Homo sapiens: one gene and its partners. The protein of the gene in region 1 purifies or fractionates together with the protein of each later gene. This does not show direct contact. Each region holds a gene or a part of one and is shown on either strand. Other genes may lie near its edges.

What was found. The genes of interacting proteins can lie anywhere in the genome.
Region 2: the proteins of GPSM1 (region 1) and PPP6R3 purify together in Homo sapiens (affinity purification with mass spectrometry; 3 studies listed by BioGRID and IntAct, with this or other methods). This does not show direct contact.
Region 3: the proteins of GPSM1 (region 1) and NUMA1 purify together in Homo sapiens (affinity purification with mass spectrometry; 3 studies listed by BioGRID and IntAct, with this or other methods). This does not show direct contact.

The regions. Positions count from the first base shown.
Region 1 is NC_000009.12:136,337,521-136,344,551, forward strand, and holds part of GPSM1 (G-protein-signaling modulator 1), read left to right. Parts: coding exon 1-44; intron 45-325; coding exon 326-441; intron 442-1,034; coding exon 1,035-1,190; intron 1,191-2,186; coding exon 2,187-2,295; intron 2,296-3,349; coding exon 3,350-3,473; coding exon of another isoform or gene 3,474-3,640; exon of another isoform or gene 3,641-4,318; intron 4,319-7,031. UniProt on the Homo sapiens protein: Guanine nucleotide dissociation inhibitor (GDI) which functions as a receptor-independent activator of heterotrimeric G-protein signaling.
Region 2 is NC_000011.10:68,610,744-68,615,857, forward strand, and holds the end of PPP6R3 (serine/threonine-protein phosphatase 6 regulatory subunit 3), read left to right. Parts: intron 1-2,292; coding exon of another isoform or gene 2,293-2,322; coding exon 2,323-2,374; 3' UTR 2,375-3,888; coding exon of another isoform or gene 3,889-3,934; 3' UTR 3,935-4,591; downstream 4,592-5,114.
Region 3 is NC_000011.10:72,077,520-72,084,423, reverse strand, and holds the start of NUMA1 (nuclear mitotic apparatus protein 1), read left to right. Parts: upstream 1-3,881; 5' UTR 3,882-3,966; exon of another isoform or gene 3,967-4,104; intron 4,105-6,904. UniProt on the Homo sapiens protein: Microtubule (MT)-binding protein that plays a role in the formation and maintenance of the spindle poles and the alignement and the segregation of chromosomes during mitotic cell division.

The DNA.
Region 1 (7,031 bases):
ATTTGTTGGGGAACTTCACAGAGGCCACGACCTTCCACAAGGAGGTGAGCCGGGCAGGGTGACAGGGTGGAGGGGCCGGGCTGCTGCAGGGGCAGGGCTGAGCCACCCTCTTGGCGGTCCCTGAAAGGGCAGGGTGGTATGGCCAGGCAGCAGGCCCGCCCCACCGAGTCCTGGCCTCATCTGCACTTGGTCCTGCAGCTGCTAGCTGCTCACCCGGACACACAGATCTCTGGCCGGCCACCTGGGCAGGGAGGCAGCCCCTGTCCGCCCACGTCAGGCCCCGGGGCTGCGCCATGACCACCTGGCCTCCGGTGTGTCTCCGCAGCGCCTGGCCATTGCTAAGGAGTTTGGAGACAAGGCAGCCGAGAGGAGGGCCTACAGCAACCTGGGGAACGCCCACGTCTTCCTGGGGCGCTTTGACGTGGCCGCCGAGTACTACAAGTAGGTGGTCCCCACAATCTCCCAGGGAGACAGCAGGCCGGGGGGGCTGGATGCCAGGCCAAGGAAGTGCCCGCCCCAAGCTGGGAATCTGACTGCCTCCCCTCCCCTCCCCAGAAGGCAAGGTGGGGTTCTAGGCTGCCCCGGGAAGGGCAGACGGACAAAGCTCATGGGGAGGCAGGCGGTGGGGGAGCCGGCCTATGGGAGGTCTGGGCCATCTGCCTCCTGGCCTGAGCCACAGAGCAGCGCCTGCCGGGTGGAGCCCGGCTGTCAGCACGGGGTCCTGTGCCCAGCCCTAAACTTAACCCCATCTCAGCCTGAGCAGTGGGCACAGCAGTCTCAGGTCCTCCGGGGAGGAGTGGTGGCGGCTCAGGGTGGTCAGGCAACTTGCCAGAGCCTGGCAGGACCCCCCGTCCCCCTGGGGCCAACAGTCCCGCTCTGTGGCCATGTGAGGGTGGGGATGAAGCTGGACCCCAGAGAGGCCCCAGTGGGATTCCGGGGCAGGGGACCATCGGGCAGACTGCGTCCCCATTCTTACCTTCCACCCCTCACCCTGGAGCCCTCCTCCTGGGGGCTGACCCTGCCACTCTGCACAGGAAGACGCTGCAACTGTCTCGGCAGCTCAGGGACCAGGCAGTGGAGGCGCAGGCCTGCTACAGTCTGGGCAACACCTACACGCTGCTGCAGGACTACGAGCGCGCGGCCGAGTACCACCTGCGGCACCTGCTCATTGCCCAGGAGCTGGCCGACAGGTGCGTGGGCGCGGACGCGGCGGGCAGACCCGGCCCGGCCCACAGGCTGAATTACCGCGGCCCAGGCGAGGTGGCCTGGGTCCCATCCCCTGCTCTGCCACTGACCATGCTGTGACCCAGGAGTGGCAACGCCACTGTGGGGACTGAGCCAGACAGTGTGGACATTGGGCCGGCCACTGACCCCTGGCACAAGCGGGTGGGGTCCCCCTCCCATCCCTCAATTCGCCACCCTGTTGCCCCCACCACCCATGTATGTATGTAAATATCACTCTCTGGAGAGAGACAGGCTGGCAAACCACAGGCCCCTAAGTACTGTCTTGTGTGCAGGTCTGGGGTGGGTGGTGGCCGGAACAAGGGGCTCAGAGCCACAGGCCTGTGGCCTTTCACAGGCAGCAGAGAGGAGAGGTCTTTTGAAAGGCTGCCCTGCCTGGAGGCTTAAAAGTGGCCCAAGGTTTTCCTTTGTGGCGTGGTGAGGAGAATGTTCTGGAATAGACAGAGGTGCCGGTTGCACAGCATGAATGTACAAAATGCCAGTGGATCGTCCACGTGAAAATGATCAAATTCCTGTTAGACGCATTTCCCTCCAATATAAAAACAACCCCCTCACCCAGTGACTTGGAGGGTGCCCGTAAGGGTGGAGGGAGTGCAAGGGAGGAGGCTTGCCGGCCGCCAGGGGGCGAGCGAGGCCAAGGGCCCAGAAACTGCCCGCAAAGGCAGAGCCGGCCACAGGCCAGGTTGCTTGGACTCTGCGCTAATCCTTTTAATGGGAAGAAAAAAGGCAGAGCTGATTGGGGCTTATGCTTGAAGGTGGCAGAATTTGTGGGAGGTCCAGCTGGGGGCATTATCCTGTCATCCGGCCAATGCCCCTTGGGCCTGGGGGCCCCTGATGACCCTCGAAGCCAGGGTCATGCTGGGGCCGTGACCACCAGGGGAGGGGCTGGGGCTGGGGGCTGGCCTGGAGAGGGCGGGTATGAATCTGGTCTCCCTCTCTGGCAGAGTGGGCGAGGGCCGGGCGTGCTGGAGCCTGGGAAATGCCTACGTGTCCATGGGGCGCCCAGCGCAGGCCCTGACCTTCGCCAAGAAGCACCTGCAGATCTCCCAGGAGGTGAGCCAGGCCTGCCCCCAGAAGTCCCGGGCACTGCCCAGCCCACTCCAGACGGGCCGGGTCCCCTCTGCCCCGAGCGAGCGTGTGCGTGCCTGGGCCCCCCTCATCCTTTCAGGGCCATTGCAGCTGCCTGGTCCTTCCGAGGCCTGGTGATGACATGTCTACCATGCCCGGGGGTTTTTCCTGCAGCCCCCAGCTGGTGCCTTCCTGGGCAGCTGCGTCTCCTCCTCCTTGGAGAGTTTGCACAGGGTCTCTGTGGGCTCCGCCCATCAGCGCCCTCCTACTGTGGTCAGGGCGGAACATCACAGATGAACTGTGGGCCTCCCGGCTCCCGGCCTGTCCTTACATCACCCACTCCCACGCCACCTCCCTCTGCACACCCCGAGCCTGTTCATGCTAAAGACGGTGCCAGCCCCTACTGACCACCATAGACCCATGTAGGAGGTGGCCGGGTGGGGAGGCCTGCAGGTGCCCAGGTGAGGGTGGAGAGGGGCGGGCATGGGAAGGTCAGCAGAGCCCTCGTCTGAAGAGCTTCACTGGCAGCCAGCAGGCAGCCCCCGTGTCCCTCTGAGTGCAGGCTACAGCCTCCAGGGCCTTCCAGGGCTCCATGTGGCCCTCCCCCCAACCCCATGCCACCTCTCTTCTGCTTGACTTAAGCAAACAGTTAGTTCCTGAGTGATGTGGATGTTCCCGGGAGGGTCCCCCACAGAGCCTCGGCGCACAAGGCAGGGGCTGAGAGAGGTGCAGCCGGGCGGGGCCGGGCCCCTCGCGCACCGGAGGGCACAGGCCCAACCGCCTGGGACCCCAAGCATCTCTGGGGTGAACTAGGGGCTGTTGAGGACCTGTGGGGCCACCTCACCCAGGGACAGACCCCCAGACTCCACCTCCGGGTCCACAGTGAGTCCTGGTTCCCTCAGAGGCCCAGGGGTCAGTGACCAGTTCAGGTCACTCAGAAGGTCAGGGACGGGTGTACTGGGGGCCATTAAGGTCCCCTTGGAGCCCACAGCAGGGCCCCCAGCCACACCTGCCCGCTCCGCCACCCCACTCGCCGCAGATCGGGGACCGCCATGGGGAGCTCACGGCCCGCATGAACGTGGCGCAGCTGCAGCTGGTGCTCGGCCGCCTGACCAGCCCGGCAGCCTCAGAGAAGCCTGACCTGGCCGGCTATGAGGCCCAGGGTGAGTTCCAGGGTTGTGGGGGGGTCTTGCTCCCCACAGGCACGGACCGCATCAGGAGCTGCGGAGGGGTGGGATCGAGGCCAGGCCAGCATGGCGGAGGTGGCAGCCGCCAGAAAATGGCGCCTACAAGCCAGTTCTTCTTGGCCTCAGGGACAGCACAGGCCTGAGGTTCACCCTGAGCCCTTCCCACCCGCATCCTGAGTGGCGCTGCAGGGCTGCTGGATGAAGGACAGGAGGTGGTCGCCTGTTGCCCCACTGGCTGCTCCAGGGCCTCCACCCCCACCTCCCCCTGGAGCCCTCGGTGCAGGGAGGGCTTCTGTCCTCAGACCCAAGTAGGAGAGGGCTGCTGGGAGGCGAGAGGGCATCAGCCAGAGGGCTGGGCTGGGCTGGGCTGGGCTGGGCTGTGGGAGCCCTATGTGCCTGGGGCAGTAATCAGGCAAGGCCCAAGGCCATGCGAGGCCACCGTGGTGACCTCATTCATGGACCGCTGGTCGTCCCATGCCGGTCAGCAGTGCTGCAGACACAGGACAGAACGTCCCCTGCAAAGCGAAAAGACTAATAGGTGCCAGGGGGGTGGTGCCAGGTTGGGCCGACTTCCTGAGGTGGCTGGCAGGTGGGTGAGGGGCAGGCTTGGGGGGAGCAGCTGCCCCACCCATGTGTCCCCCACTCCCAAAGGTCTTGAGTTTGCCAGCCCCCGAGAAGGGATGCCTGCCTCCCAGAACGTACCTGGTGCCCCCCAGGCCTGCTAAGGACCAGGCTGGGAACACCAGGCTTGGATGTGGTGCTGGGCTGCCGGAGTTTCTTTTTCTTATCTTATTTTTAATAATTAAATGTTTTTATAGAGATAGGGCCTCACTATGTTGCCCAGGCCAGTGTCAAACTCCCAGCCTCAAGCGATCCTCCCATCTCGGCTTCCAGAAGTGCTGGGATTATAGGCGTGAGCCACCGTGCCCAGCCATCCCCTGGGTTTTTGTGCCACAGTGCTCATGGGTTTCTGACGATGACCTCTCCTGGGAAATTGGGGGTGCATGTCAGCCACCGCAGAGGCTGAAGACAGAGGAAGGAGCAGAGGCTCTGGGGCCCTCAGCGAGTCCGTGGGACAAGGTGCTGTGACCGATGGCAGTGGGTGGGTAGGGGATGGGCTGGAATGTGCCCCCCAGGATGTCCAGGCCTATTTCTACCCATGGCCGGGGTTTCCTAAGGGTGGGGAGCTCTGCCGAGAGCTCCTGCGGCACCCCTAGTACCCTCCTGTGTCCCTGGCTCGGCACTGCCACCATCTGGGACCCCAGCAGCAACTGGCAGCAGGGCTGGGAGCAGCTCTGGAAAGGCTCCGCGGAGGCTGCGGCTCTGGGTCCTCCCGACGTTTTCTTTCTTGGAGCCAAGGAAAAGGGGGGCCGGAGTGGGAGGACGCTGGAACAATGCAGCTTCTGTCCCTCTCTGGCTCCTCTGTGCCGCCCCGAGTGCGGGACCCCTTCCAGCCGGCCGGACGCCTCCTCCCCCAGGGCTGGGGAAGGGTCCTCCTCCCCGCCCAGGGCAGCCCGGCAGCCTGGCTGGGGCCGCCGCCCGGCTGCCGCTGTGGGAGGCAGGCTGCACACCTAGAGCCTGGGCGGCCCTGGGTGAGACCCCGGCTCAGCTGAGCCTGGCAGGGACAGGGCCTTGAGGCCGGGAGTCTGGACCCGGCGTTGCGGGTTGGGGGCGCCACGGAAGGACCCACGCAGCCTCCCCATTCGGCAGGTGCGGAGGGCGGGGTGGATCTGCGAGCTGCGGGAGGGGAGGGGGGTGCAGAGCCGCGCTAGAGCCTGGCCGTGCGGAGGGGGCGCCAGGGCTGGGGGCACAGGAGGGCGCTGCCCAGCGGGGTGTGGGCAGGGAGGAGGAAGTCGTCTGGAGGTGGGGCTTCAGCCCGGCGGGGACGCGGTGGGGCGTGGCCTTGCTGTTGTGGGCGTGGTCCATGGGGGCGGTGGGCGTGGCAGAGGCTGGTGGGTTTGGTGTCCCGTTGATAAACACAAGGAGACTTACGTGCGGCTGGAGGACAAAGAGCCTTGGCGCGGCTCAGTCAGCGTATTAATCTCACCGCCCTCTGCTGGCCCCTCCCCAGCCAGCAGAGAAGCCCCAGAAGTGTGTCTGGGGGTCACCACCCTGCCAGCCACTGCCCTTGTCCAGCTCCTCTGGGTGTGTGGCCTCTATGAGACCCTGACAGCAACCAGCCCCCACCTCCCTGGCCAGAGGGCACAGGCCCGGGCCTCCCACACTTGCTCCTGGGCTGCCCACCCCCCACCCCAGCAAGGGTGCCAGGCAGGACGGAGGCTCTGCTGCCACTCTTGGTGCGGGCAGCATGATTGGCATGTTGGGAGGAGGGAGCCGGCCCTGAGCCCTGCAGGACCGCCCCCTGCCCTTGGCCTGTCCCCGATGGCCCTGCCTGTCCCACAGGATGTGCGACTGCCCTCGGCCCTGCTGACCGTACTTCTCAGCCCTCCACCGTCTGGGCCCTGCTCAGGGCGTTGTGAGCACGGTACACAAGAGTTACTGGGGGAGCATGCCACCAGCCTTCCTGGGAGAAGTCCCCTGAACGTCCCAACGAGTGGCCTTGGGGTCAGGGATGTGCATGGCATAACCTCCCCTGCAGTTTAGGCTGTGGGCTCCAGCCCTGGCCAGCTGATCAAGTGACTTGACCCACTTGTGCCTCAGTGTCCCCATCTGGGGAACGGGCCCATCAGTAGTGCTGGGAACAGAGCTTGGCAGGGGTGAGAGGCCAGCGAGCCTGAGGGCCCGTAAGCCTGTTGCGTTCGGGCCCTGGGTGGACGAGGCAGGTGTGGCTGCAGCACCATCCGCCTGTTCCAGCAGCCCAGTGGCCCTTGGGCAGCCGCCGGGATGGAGGATGCACCCTCTGTCCGTGCGCCTAAGAGGGCCCAGAGGGGACAGTGTGTGGGAAATGGCACACAGGGTCCCGCACGCAGCAGATACACAGTAAATGCCTGCTGCTTGGTCACCAGGCTCCTGCCGTGTGCCAGGCACTGCTGGGGCCCTCACTGGCACCAAGACCGCTGAGCCGCGTCCAGCAGCTGATAGGTGAGGAACGGGGAGCCCAGGAGTGAGCCACATGGGATGAGCTTTGGGAGAAAGAAAAGCCCAACAGGGAGGTGCGGACAGGAACGGGGGAGGTGCGGACAGGATCGGGGGGAGGCGCGGACAGGAGCGGGGGGAGGCGCGGACAGGAGCGGGGTGGGGGCGCGGACAGAAGCGGGGTGGGGCGCAGACAGGAGCAGGGGAGGCGCGGACAGGAACAGGGGAAGCAGGCTGCAGCACCTTTGGGAGATGACCATCATGGTCCATTCCGACTGCCCTCACAAAGCACCGCAGGCCGGGGCAGCAACAGCAGACGTTTACTCCTCACGGCTCTGGAGGCCAGAAGGCCAGGGTTTGGGTGCTGTGTGCTCGGGTGCTGGCGAGAGCCTCTTCCGGGCTGGCAGACGGCGCTTTCTTGTTGTGTCCTCACCTAGCAGAGACAGCGAGGAAGAAGGGGGAGCTTGAGAACACTGGTGGCTTCTCTTAAGGCCACTT
Region 2 (5,114 bases), on another chromosome or scaffold:
CACAATCAACTTCTGTGAACAAATGTAGCTAAGATTGTATATTCCTTCCATAAGGAATAAAATGACCTTTAAAGCTATTTCAGAGAAGTTTTAACCCCCCACCCCCACCCCATCCTCCCCCAAATCTTGCCAGCATTGTATGAGAGCATAACCAGTGGGAACCAGCAGGGAGCACTCTTTGTTGGTCCAAAATCCTGTATTCACAGTGTAGCAAGCTGTTTGTGTTCCTCCTGTGGAAATTGTAGCCAAAATAAAGCCTTTGTTTTTGTGATTAGAAATATTTTTTTTGCATATAAAACAAACAAATTAAGAACTATTTGAGCATGTTGGCTCTAGTGAAGGCTTTTGGGGGAAGAGGCAGGGTGGCCCTCTAGCACTGGGAAGCTGCCTCAACTCTGCTTCTACGGATTGGGCAAGTCACTCTCTTTCTTGGGGTTTCAATGTATTTTTTAATGGTCCTTTATAGGTCTCATTCCCAATCAATTATTTCAGCTCTCTGATTTCTACCTATAAATTTCCTTTATATTGAGGGCTGCCTAGGCAGGATCGTCCAGGTCTATCCCAGTTTGGGGCAGTTGCTTCAGGGGAATATTCTTGGTTTCTCTGTCATAAGGATGCACAAGGCTCTGGAGTCATTTCCTTGGCTTTCTGAGCACAGAAGAATTGTTTGCATAAGGGGAAGCCACTTGCTCTCCTCTGTGGCTGGGAATGCCTGCTCTGAAGAGCCCTGCCCTAACCTGCCGGGCCAAGGGATGGAGGAAAAGATGGGGTCAGCCAGTGGAAGAAGAGGGGCATCACTTGGGTCCATGCCTTTATCCATCTGTCCTTCTTTCCTCTGACACACGTTTGTGTGTGGTGGCCACTGGTCTAGGCCGGGTCATAAAGCTGCAGCACACGGACACCCAGTGGTCTCGGGGCATACTAGAGGCACATTCATCAAGAAGCCACGAAGAAGGGACAGGGGTCCATGTGAGCTGGGGTGCGGGGGAGAGGATCTCTGAGGTGACGTTGGAGTGGGCATTAGGGCAGACCTAGAGTGCGTCCTAGATTGCACGTGTTCTAAAGTGACGTATGACAGCATGGGATATTGAAGCTCACCCGTCTTTCCTGTGTGGTTCCCGTCCCAGCCAGATACCACAGTTCCTTGGATTGGCAGGCGCGCTGTTTCCTGTCACACTTAAAGATCTGCATTGCCACATGATCTCACTTTTCACAGCTGTTTTATCAAGCATGTCCTTTGTGCTTCTGATGTGCTGAGCATGCTGCACACATTATGTACTTATTTCATATGTATACTAGTGAAGCCCTGTGGGGCGTGGGGAGGGTTCTTTTCCCATTTTACAGAGGAGAAAACAGAACTGAGAGGGGCTAAGAAATCTACTTATAAGATCACTCAGCTTGTTTAAGTGAAGGCAAGTTAGTTATATACCAGTTATGTCTAGTTCCAGAAGTCTCGATTCCTATGTCTCTCATACACGGAGCCACCATCAGATGTAAGTAAGTGAGCAGAGTGGATTGTGTGTGCAGAGCTGACTTTTTGGCTCACTGTATAACCAGCAGGTATAAGGCATGAGTAGCATTCTAGCTGTAAATTGTGAATGCTAGTGGAAAAGTGCTTGTGGGCATCCCAGTTACGGCCCTAAGCACCCTTTCCCAAGTCTGCTTGATACAATTTTGGTCAAGCCTTCCCGAATAGGTTATATATTCAGGTTGTAATTTTGGCAGGAAGGCAAAACCTGGACACTTTGTTATATACTGTCCCACCTGTTATTCCCTCCCAGTTTTGAGCCTAACATTTGCTTTGTGGGACATGTTCTTCAAGTGGACACCTTTTTTTTTTTTTCCAGTAGTTTATTTGCAAACCTCCTTTCCTTTCCTTTTTTCCCCCCTTTCCTAGTAGCAGAATCCTGTTTCCAAGTGAAATAGTATGTGGATTCCAATCTGTGGGTCACATAAAAGCTTTCTTGAAGGAGCGGTGAACACATAGCTCCTGAAGGCTCTGGAAGCCACAGTTTATACCCCACTGACCTAGTCACTCCCTGTGCTTCTTGGAGGCCGCGGTGGGGCGGTTCTCCCAGAGCATTTGCTCTGCTGCTGCCCTTGCTGAATGCCTGCTCACCCGGTGATGAAGCTTAGATGCACTCACTCAGATTTTTCTAGAGCTTTTGCTCCATTCATTTACATATCATTTTATTAAAAACTTACTAAGTTCAAAACAATGTTAAAATAAGTTGTCCCTGCCCTTGGGGAGCTCAGCTAAGTAGGTTTTGTTTTTCATATTTCTGCTGCAAGTGCCTCCGATGCCTGTCTGTTGCTCCTTAGGACTGGCCAACCAAGCGCACCAGGTGACACTTCAGTGAATGGCCCTGTATGACGGGTGACGTCTGCTGCTGCTGACTGAGGACTGCAGACCGCCACCACTCAGGGGCTCTGGAGGGGTCAGCTGGAGCCCACCAAGCTGTCACTGCTGCACTCACTCTGCAAGGGATCAGGACCAGCAACCTTTATATTCTAGATTCTAAGACATTGTACAGAGAAATTCAGAAGTGTAAAAATATTGCACATTGACAAATACCAAGAATTTTTGCGTATGTTTATATTGTATTGTTCTAAATAATGGGTAGCCTGTGAAATAAGATCTTGCCACCCATGTAATAATAGTAGTAATACTATAGTTAAAATGGCTGTAAGAATAGTTTTATAAAAGTGAATACACAGATCTATTGTATTTGAAACATAACTTTGACAATTATTAGTGTGACCAAAGTATTAGGCGGTTTTCATACATTTTTCACCTTGTACAAAATTATGAATTCATTTTTCCTCCAGGCCGACAAGGAGTTGTAGAATGAAAATGCCCTCTAAGTGTTATTTTGGTTGTTCTAACTTACAAAAGTGATTTTGAATAAGAAATATTTGGTGTTCTTTTTATAACCAGTTTTTGATTGGTAATTGTTTTCTGTATTGTTTAAAACGGATCAAAAATGTAAGTCTATTGGTAGAGATTAAGTAAAGTATTTATTGCTACATCATAGTTGATAAATTGATGTTATCGTAAAGCCATATGTTCTGTTCAAGTCTTGTTTGCTTGAAATGATTATTCCTACAAGTGAAACACTAGACTATTTGGAGTGTATATGGCTTGTGTTTTGGGATTTTTTTTTTTTTTTTTTGGCTTTTGTTTTTGTTTGTTTTTTTGTTTCATTTGGTAGTTCATCTGCCTTTTAACCCATTCACCAAAATTTACCTTGTTAACAAGCATCACCAATGAACATTTCAGAGCAATCTGCATATTTAACAGACCTAAAATAAATCCTATTAGGCAAGTCAGTTGAAAATGCTCGTGCTGCTAATGGAATTAGAGTGCGTTCATTTTACAGGCTAGTATTTTAAAAGTAGAAATCAAAATCTGGCACCGAAGCATGCTAATTGTTTACTGTACCTTGTGAGGTTTTCACTCATAAATTTAAACCAGTGTATTTTTTTAGAACTGGTTTGTGTATATATATAGTGATTATGGATACTAATTCAATGTAATTTATAATTTTCTATGTCAATACAAAAATACATCACAGCCTTCTCAAACAGCTCAAGCAATATATTGTATATTGCCATATCGTCTGGTGAAAGGGTTAAATTACTTCACCTCTTGCACTTTTAGATGCAAATCAGTTTTTCATTTCTGTAATAGAAAATTATTCACGTATTTTTACATCATTTGTTTTTCCTGACCAGTATTTAAAACCAAAAGGATATTCTGAAAAATGGCCAACAATTTTTTTAGAAGTAGCATCCCAAGCAGCGTGCCTAAACATTACATTGCATATGGAAATAAAAGAATCAAACGTCTAATGCCTTATTATTTCTGATTTCCTTTTTCATTTTAAGTGGTGTGGAGATTCCAGCACTCCCAGGACAGTGGAGTCAGCAGTAAGCCCTGGGACAGGTGGCAAGGGTGGGTCCCTTGACCTTTGCACGCCTCCTCAGGAACCCCCTTTCCCGGGTGAGCCCCTCTCTGAAGAGACTGTCCTTGGGCCTCCTCTGGAAGCAGCACCCCCAGAGGACAGGGCTCCTCCTGCTTGCCTCAGGGCTGCCTGACTTGAATGGCGTTGGACCTCGGGGATTACTGGTAGATAATATGCTCTGGTCTCGCCTGGTGGTGAGTTTTGCCAGCCATGGCCAGGGTTTGGCTCCACTGGTGGCACACGTGGCCTCCGTGGTATGGACCTGGTGGCTTCTCCATCCCACTGTGGCCTCTGTGGTATGGACCTGGTGGCTTCTCCATCCTACCCAAGGTAACAGTGTCTTGCTTCATCCCACTGACTGCTGGGAGAGAGCCTCTGGGACTTTTCTTTGGGGCATCATTTTGTTTTGTCTTTCGTAGCAGGGAAAGGATATGACAATGGGGAGGACAGTTCTTTTGGAGGTTGGAGGGGCCAAGCCAAGGACAGGAGCAAGTGTGCCCTCATTTTGTTTCTACTTTTAATTTCTGTGTGTTGGCCATACTGAATTATGAGACTAACAGATGTCTACAATACAATACCTGTATTCAAAATAACAAAAATAAAGCCTGATTCTTTGTTTCTAGAAATCTCTTGTACCTTGCTTGGATTTTTAATGGGTTGATGTGTCCTGCCATTAGGTCCCGTGTTACACTAGGTCCTGTGTGAGAAAGACTGCACTGCACTGTGTGAGAGAGTGGCCTCTGGGATCAGGGGCTCATCCTCCCCACTGCCATAGCCCAGGTGCCCAGAAGAGGTGGTGCCTGACACCGGCTCTCAGTCTTGGGACGGCTCCAAGGGTTCCTCTGGACCTCCAGCTTGTTACTTTTATGTGCAGCGTGTCCCACCTATGTTGTTTGGCTCCCAGCCCAACAAGTCACAGTTAGGTGCTCCATAATGATTCTTAAGATGTGATGCTTATGTAGCTCCTTATTTTGCATTTTCCCTTCACCTGTTTGCTTAAAAACATGTTCTCTAGTCATTACCTCCTAGCAGGTCCTCTGCACAGCCTTTTGCTTTCTGGGCACGCATGCATCCCTCCGTGCCTGGGCCCACAGGCATCTCACACAGCACTGAGTACACACCTCTGCATGCTGGGCCCGCAGGCAGCTC
Region 3 (6,904 bases), on another chromosome or scaffold:
TTCACTTAATTTATTTAACCAATCCCAAGTTGACAGAAAACTGTTTTCAGTTTTGGGAAATTACTAACATTTGGAATTTGATTTGTTGCTAGCCTATTCCTGCCCTCTCTCAGGCAAGTTGCAACATGATAACACAGGAAGCTTTGAGGAATAATCACATAAATCTGATAGGAGATTCAACAGCCTGGCCCGAGAGTTTCTGATGATGGACTGATGGTGGAAAAAAAATCAAAGGCTGCTATGAAAAATCTGCCACATATTTAGCCAGGCATGGCAGCTCACGCCTATAGTCCCAGCTACTTGGGAAGCTGAGGTAGGAGTATGGCTCAAGCCCAGGAGTTCGAGGCTGCAGTGAGCTATGACTGTGCCACTGCACTCCAGTCTGGGCAACAGAGCGAGACCCTGTCAAAAGAAAAAGAAGAAAAATCTGCCACATAATCTAATATATTCTGGGAGGTTATATTCCCAGGTGCCAAAAGGAGGACCAAGATTCAACCTGGCTCCTGTCCACCCCCCTCTACTACCATCTCATCCTCAACTCCAATTCTGCAGTCTAGCCAAATGCAACCACTCACCATAAGTTCCCTGCACCTGCCACTGGGCCTCTAAGTGGAACAGTGTCTCCTTCCAGCTCTGTCTGCTTGGAATATAGTTTTTCTCTCCTCCTTTTGCTTTGCTAATTCTTATTTCAGGGCTCAGATCAGGTTTCAACTTTTCTGAGAAGTCTACCTTTATCCTCAAATCTGTAATTGTAGTGCTATGATTGCCATGGTAGCACTCGTAACACTGTAATTATCTGCTTACTATCTGTATGTCCATAAACACCAGCAGGGCAGAAACCATATTTTTTCTTACAGTTGTATCTCATAGTGCCGGCAAGTAGTAGGTGCTTAACAAACACATTAAAAATTGCAACTAAATAATACTACAAAGGAGAGGGCCATGAGGTTGCTGTAATTGAGGGATCTGACCTGGTCTGAACAGTCTACAGGAAGACATTCCTGAAGAAGTGACTGAGAGAAATCTAAAGGATAAGTACAAATTAACTTATGGGGTAGGGGGTGGTGTGGAATGAGCATTCCAGGCAGATGTGACTGCTATATGCAAAGGTTCTATGGTGGAAGGGTACTTGGAAATTTTGAAGACCTTAAAGGTTATATAACTGAAGGGGAGAGAAGGATGAATATGTATGGTTAGACTGGAGGCTGGAGAGATGGGAGCAATAGGAAACCACATAGTATTAATATTAAATGGGGGCTGGCTGGGCGTGGCGGCTCACGCCTGTAATCTCAGCACTTTGGGAGGCCAAGGTGGGCAGATCACCTGAGGTCGGGAGTTCGAGACCAGCCTGACCAACATGGAGAAACCCCGTCTCTACTAAAAATATAAAATTAGCCGGGTGTGGTGGCGCATGCCTGTAATCCCAGTTACCTGGGAGGCTGAGACAGGAGAATTGCTTGAAACCGGGAGGTGGAGGTTGCTGTGAGCCGAGATTGCGCCATTGCACTCCAGCCTGGGCAGCAAGAGCGAAACTCTGTCTCAAAAAGAAAAAAAAAAAATTGGGGGTGGGGTAGAGAGTGAACAGTATCAGCTTTGCATTTTGAAGGATCACTCTGGTTGCAGTGCGCAAATATGGCTGGGAGGGAAGGCAGGAAGGATGTGATGGTAGCTAGGACCTATATAAAAGATATTCAGGAAGTAAAGCTGATAAGACTTAGTGATAGATGGGAAATGGAAGAGGTATTAAGTAAATGGAAGAGGTACTAACTTGGGTTTTGGGCTTGGGTATATTGTGGATAAAGGTAGGAGCACTGGAAGAGATCCAGGCTTGGAGGAAAAGGTTGGGATACACAGAGATTGTTTCAATTTCAGAAATGTAGAGTTTGGGTTGCCTTTGAGGTATCCTAAAGGAGATGTTGAGGCAATTGGCTATATAGATCTGGAGCTTAGAGATGAGGGCTGGGCTTGAGATACACACTTGTGTACATTTGCATACAGGTGGAAAATGAAGTTGTGGGTGTGGAGGGGTACCCAAGAAGAGAATATAGAGTGCAGTGGCAAGAGGGCGTAGGACCAAACCTGGGAGAACTTTAAGGTAGTAAGTGGACCAGTCAGGGCCAGCTAGTCACCAGCTAGAAACCAGCTAATCATGGTCACTTCAGACATGGGTGCTGTGTTAGCCCTTCTGTTTCCTGTTTAGTTAAAAATGTTCAAGTCTCATTGTCTTAGTCTCTCTAGTTCCTTTTCCCCATTAAAAGTTTCAGGGGAGGATCTGAAATTCATTCCAGCTGAAGTGTAAATAATACAAAGTAGGCCACACAGGTTCCTTTTCCCTGGGGCAGTTTAACTTGTTCCTTGGAACAAGTCCTTCCGCTATAGAGGCAGTAGGCTGAAGCTAAAGAGACTTAGCTGGAAGTCGGAGAACTGGAGTCTAGTTCTAGCTCTGTCACTAATTTGGTGTGTGGCCTTGGGCAAGTCCCTTTTCTCTGGGTTTCAGTTTTCCAATCTGTGAAATGAAGATAAATATCCTTGACTCACAGAGCTGTTAAGAGTATCAAAAGAGAGACTGTGAAAGCACTGGGTAGGTTACTAAATGTAATAGATCTGTCGTGAGTACTAAAAAAAATGAAGCTCTAACTGTAGAGCTTTGAGTAGCGGACCACGGAGAAGGTGTGGGGAGAAAAGGGAATCTGGGGACAGATTGAGAAGGGGTTTTACTCCTTGGAAGAAGAAGGAATGAGGCACTTCACGCCCCAGGAAGTTTCCTACATCTCTAGAATTAGGGTAGCGACTGCGATTTACTCAATCTAATGCTAACCGCATGTCTTGGAAGAGGGTCTCAGTTCCTCAGAGGAAAACCAACCCCATTTCTGAGGGCGTTTCTGATCTCCCAGGTTATGCCTGGAACTTGAAGCATCCGATTTTGGGAGCTTTATGTTTGCGTTGGGGGCGGGGTTCGTTGTTTTGTTTTGTTTTTGTTTTGTTTCGTTTTGTTTTGTTTTGAGATGGAGGTATCGCTCTATAGCCCAGGCTGGAGTGTAGTTGCGTGATCACGGCTCACTGCAGCTTCAATCTCCGGGCTCAAGCGATCCTTCTACCTCAGCCTCCCTAGTAGCTGGGGCCACTGGAGCGCGCCACCAAGCCCGGCTAATTTTTTTATGTTTTTGGTAGAGACAGGGTTCGCCATGTTTCTCAGGCTGGTCTCGAACTCCTGGCCTTAAGTGGTCCGCCCGCCTTGGTCTCCCAGTGTTGGGATTACAGGCGTGAGCCACCGCTCCCGGCCCTGGGGGTGGTTCTTAAGCATCCCCAAATCTGTATGGATATATATCTCAACGCCTATCCCTCCCTCTGCTCCCCCTCGCCCAGTCTGTCCCATGTGAGTGTTGTATCTTGTTCGCTGTGAAAGGTGATGAGGGTCGGTGGGGGAAATCTCAGATCCCCGAGCAGGAAGGTTCTTAGTCGTTCTGTGAGTGCCCCTCCCTTCTCCATAGATCTCTTGTCCCCTAGAACGGGTTTCCTGTTTTCCCGCCCGACTCACCCGCAGTCGCTTCCTCTCCAGTCTTGGCGTCCCACTGCCTCAGGGTTACTCAGAGCAACTCCATGGCAACTGCTTTCGTCACCACAACCCGGCAGGCGCCATAAGTACTGACGCGATGCTTACCGGGACCTTCAGTTTGTCAGGGGCGGGGCTTCAAGGCCGCGGGTGACGCTGGGATTTGTAGTTCTCTTTGCCTTCAAGTACAGGCCGGGGTCCGGAAGCGGTGATACCCCTTCTCTTTCCCAGTGGCCCTCAAACTTCCTTTTCCCGGGTCCTTAAGCGGGCCCCGCCGACAGAGGCCAATCAGAGGGCAGCGCGAGGGGGCGGGGCCATAGTTTAAACTAATTGTGCGCTCACAGCGCTGGCGCGAGCCCACGAAGAGGTACGATTCCGGAGAATCGCGAGGCAGAGCGGGAGCGCGCAGCCAGGTAACCGGCGCGGGCCCGCGTTTGGCGTGCGGCCTGGGCACCCCTGCGGGTGCTCAGGCCTAAAAGGGGTGCTGGAGAGGCCGCTGCGAGCGGAAGGCCTCCTCCATAACCGAGTCCGAAAGGGCAGAATCTATGGGGGTAAGGTTTGTGAGGAGAGGCGCCTGAGAGGGAGGAGCCGGGGGGGGGGGGGGTGCCTTAAAGGGGAGGGTCTGTTTGGGGGCGTGTCTGTGGAATTAAATCTGAAGGTGACTGGGGTCGGGGGTATAGGGCAAGTTCCCGAAAGGCTTGTAAGCGAGGGGTCGGGTCCTGGAAAGTCTTTGCCTTTTATCGTTAACAATAGCAGTAGTTATGGTAGTGCAGTAGTCAGCATTTTCTGAGCTACACCGTCCACAATGACCTGCCAAATGTTTATCTTTTTAATCTTCTAACCACCTGTTATACTTTAAAGATGGGGAGCCTGAGGTTTATAATGTTTAGCTTGGCCCGGGTTACGTAGCCAGTGCGAGGTTGGCTCTACTTTGGGTTTATGGGTTGGGCATAAATGGGGACGGGGAAGGTGCTTTGTGGGGGCGCGCGTTGTCTTGGACTGGTCAGTGTATTTTGAGCCTCACTTTTCATATATGTAAACAATGACCTTACCTGCCTTACCTACTTCCTGGGGTGGTTGTCCTGGTCAAAACAGGTTAAGTCTTTTTTTTTTTTTTTTTTAATTTTTGTTTGTTTTTGTTTTTCATCCATGGACTCTCACAGATAACATGTTTCATACACGCACCTCGGAGAGTACAAATTTATGACTATAAGTGGTGTGACTGTGTGAAGATTGTGGGTGGGCGGGAGCCCACTGGGTTGATGCTGCCGCCTCTGGGTACTCTCTTTTGCTTACCTCTGAGTTAGCACTTGTCATTTTTTTTTTTTTTTGAGACGGAGTCTCGCCCTATCGCCCAGGCCGGAGTGCAGTGGCGCGATCTCGGCTCACTGCAACCTCTGCCACCCGGGTTCAAACAGTTCCCTGCCTCAGCCTCCCGAGTAGCTGGGATTACAGGCGCCCGCTACCACACCCGGCTAACTTTTGTATTTTTAGTAGACACAGGGTTTCACCATCTTGGCCAGGCCGGTCTTGAACTCTTGACCTCGTGATCCGCCCGCCTCGGCTTCCCAAAGTGCTTGGGATTACAGGCGTGAGCCATCACGCCCGGCCTGCCATCTGGTATTTTAAAAGTCTGCGTGTTTGTCTGCCCTTCTAGATAACGAGAGACTTTTTCGTCACTGTATCCTAATGGCTAGGCAGGATTTGCGACATGTAATGGGAATAAATGTATGCTTTGGAATAATTTCTTGGGCTGAAAGGGCACAGGAATTTCGCTTTCCCGTTTTCATTTAGTGGCATTTGAACCTCAGTATTAAGCTGTCCTCTTTACTGGAATGGCACTCCCTCTTGAAAACGTGATGATATTTTCTTGCTTTAATACATAATTCCCTCTCTCTAGTATCTGTTGCCTGGTTCTATGTTTCCAAACTTCTGGGTTGTCTGGTCGTTAAAGCTTTAATGGTAAGGGAGTTGGGCCTCTCTGCTTTGTGGAGATCTTTACTGCTGTGAATATATGGGAACCTGGGGCGAACATGAGGATCATGTAAGGTAGCTTTCTGTCAGCACAGATGGGTTTATGTTTCCTCAGTCCCTCTTTCTGTGTGGTATTTTCTTCTTTAGAGGAAGAACCACATACTTTTTTGTGAAAGCTTCCAAAGTATTCTTTTCGTAGCCTAAGTTCTAGCAAGGGATGACTAATTGTAATGTCTAAGCTCTTAGTTCACAGCGAAAAGCGGTACATTCCAAAAGCTTAAAGATCTTACCTGAAAGCTCGTTAAGAAACGTAGAATTCTTTTTTACATGTGGAACATGGAAGTGGGAAGAATGCCTTGAAATAAGACTTGAATTCTAGAACTTTTAGGATGAGGGCAAAGCCCTGCTCAGGTGGCTGAACAGAGCTGATCAGGGGCTGTTTGGACAGCTGTGTCTAATTGATAAAACTATGATCAGAAGATATTAGGTTTGTGCAAAAGTAATTGCAGTTATTGCCATTGAAAGTAATGGCAAAAACCACAGTTACTTTTGCATTAACCTAATATATGGTGTGGTCATTTAATTTAGCCTCTTACCCAGTGTACACTAAACATACCAAAAGGTGTTGTCCAGACTCAAAATGAGTACTTTCTAGAATGAGATCATTCCCAAAGTCAATCCATCTCTAAGCTGAACAATTCTAATTGATAATTATTATTTTGTAGCTGGGCATGGTGGCTTGCCCTGTCATCCCAACTACTCTGGAGGCTGAGGCAGGAGGAGCAGGCGGGAGAATGGCTTGAGCCCAGGAGTTCTTAGCTAGCCTGGGCAACAGAGTGAGACCCCAACACAATTAAAATATGTTTATTGTTTTGTATTGTTAGTGATTATTTCATTTTACCCATGTATGTCTACTGTTTGCTTTTTCACTATTTTTCCTTGCATTTTATTCCTTCCTTTTTTATTGCATAGATACATACATCCTTCAGATGTTTGTCCAGTGGGAATCTGTTAGTGGTAAACACTGTCTTCATTTAAAAAATCTTTATTTCACTTTCAGTTTTTTGTTTTTTTTTTTTTTTTGAGATGGAGTCTCACTCTGTTGCCCAGGCTGGAGTGCAGTGGCACAGTCTCGGCTCACTGCAAGCTCCGCCTCCCAGGTTCACACCATTCTCCTGCCTCAGCCTCCCGAGTAGCTGGGACTACAGGCGCCCGCAACCACGCCTGGCTAATTTTTTGTATTTTTAGTAGAGACAGGGTTTCATTGTGTTAGCCATGATGGTCTCGATCCCCTGACCTTGTGATCCTCCCGCCTCGGCCTCTCAGAGTGCTGGGATTATAGGCATGAGCCACTGTGCCCAGCTCACTTTCAGTCTT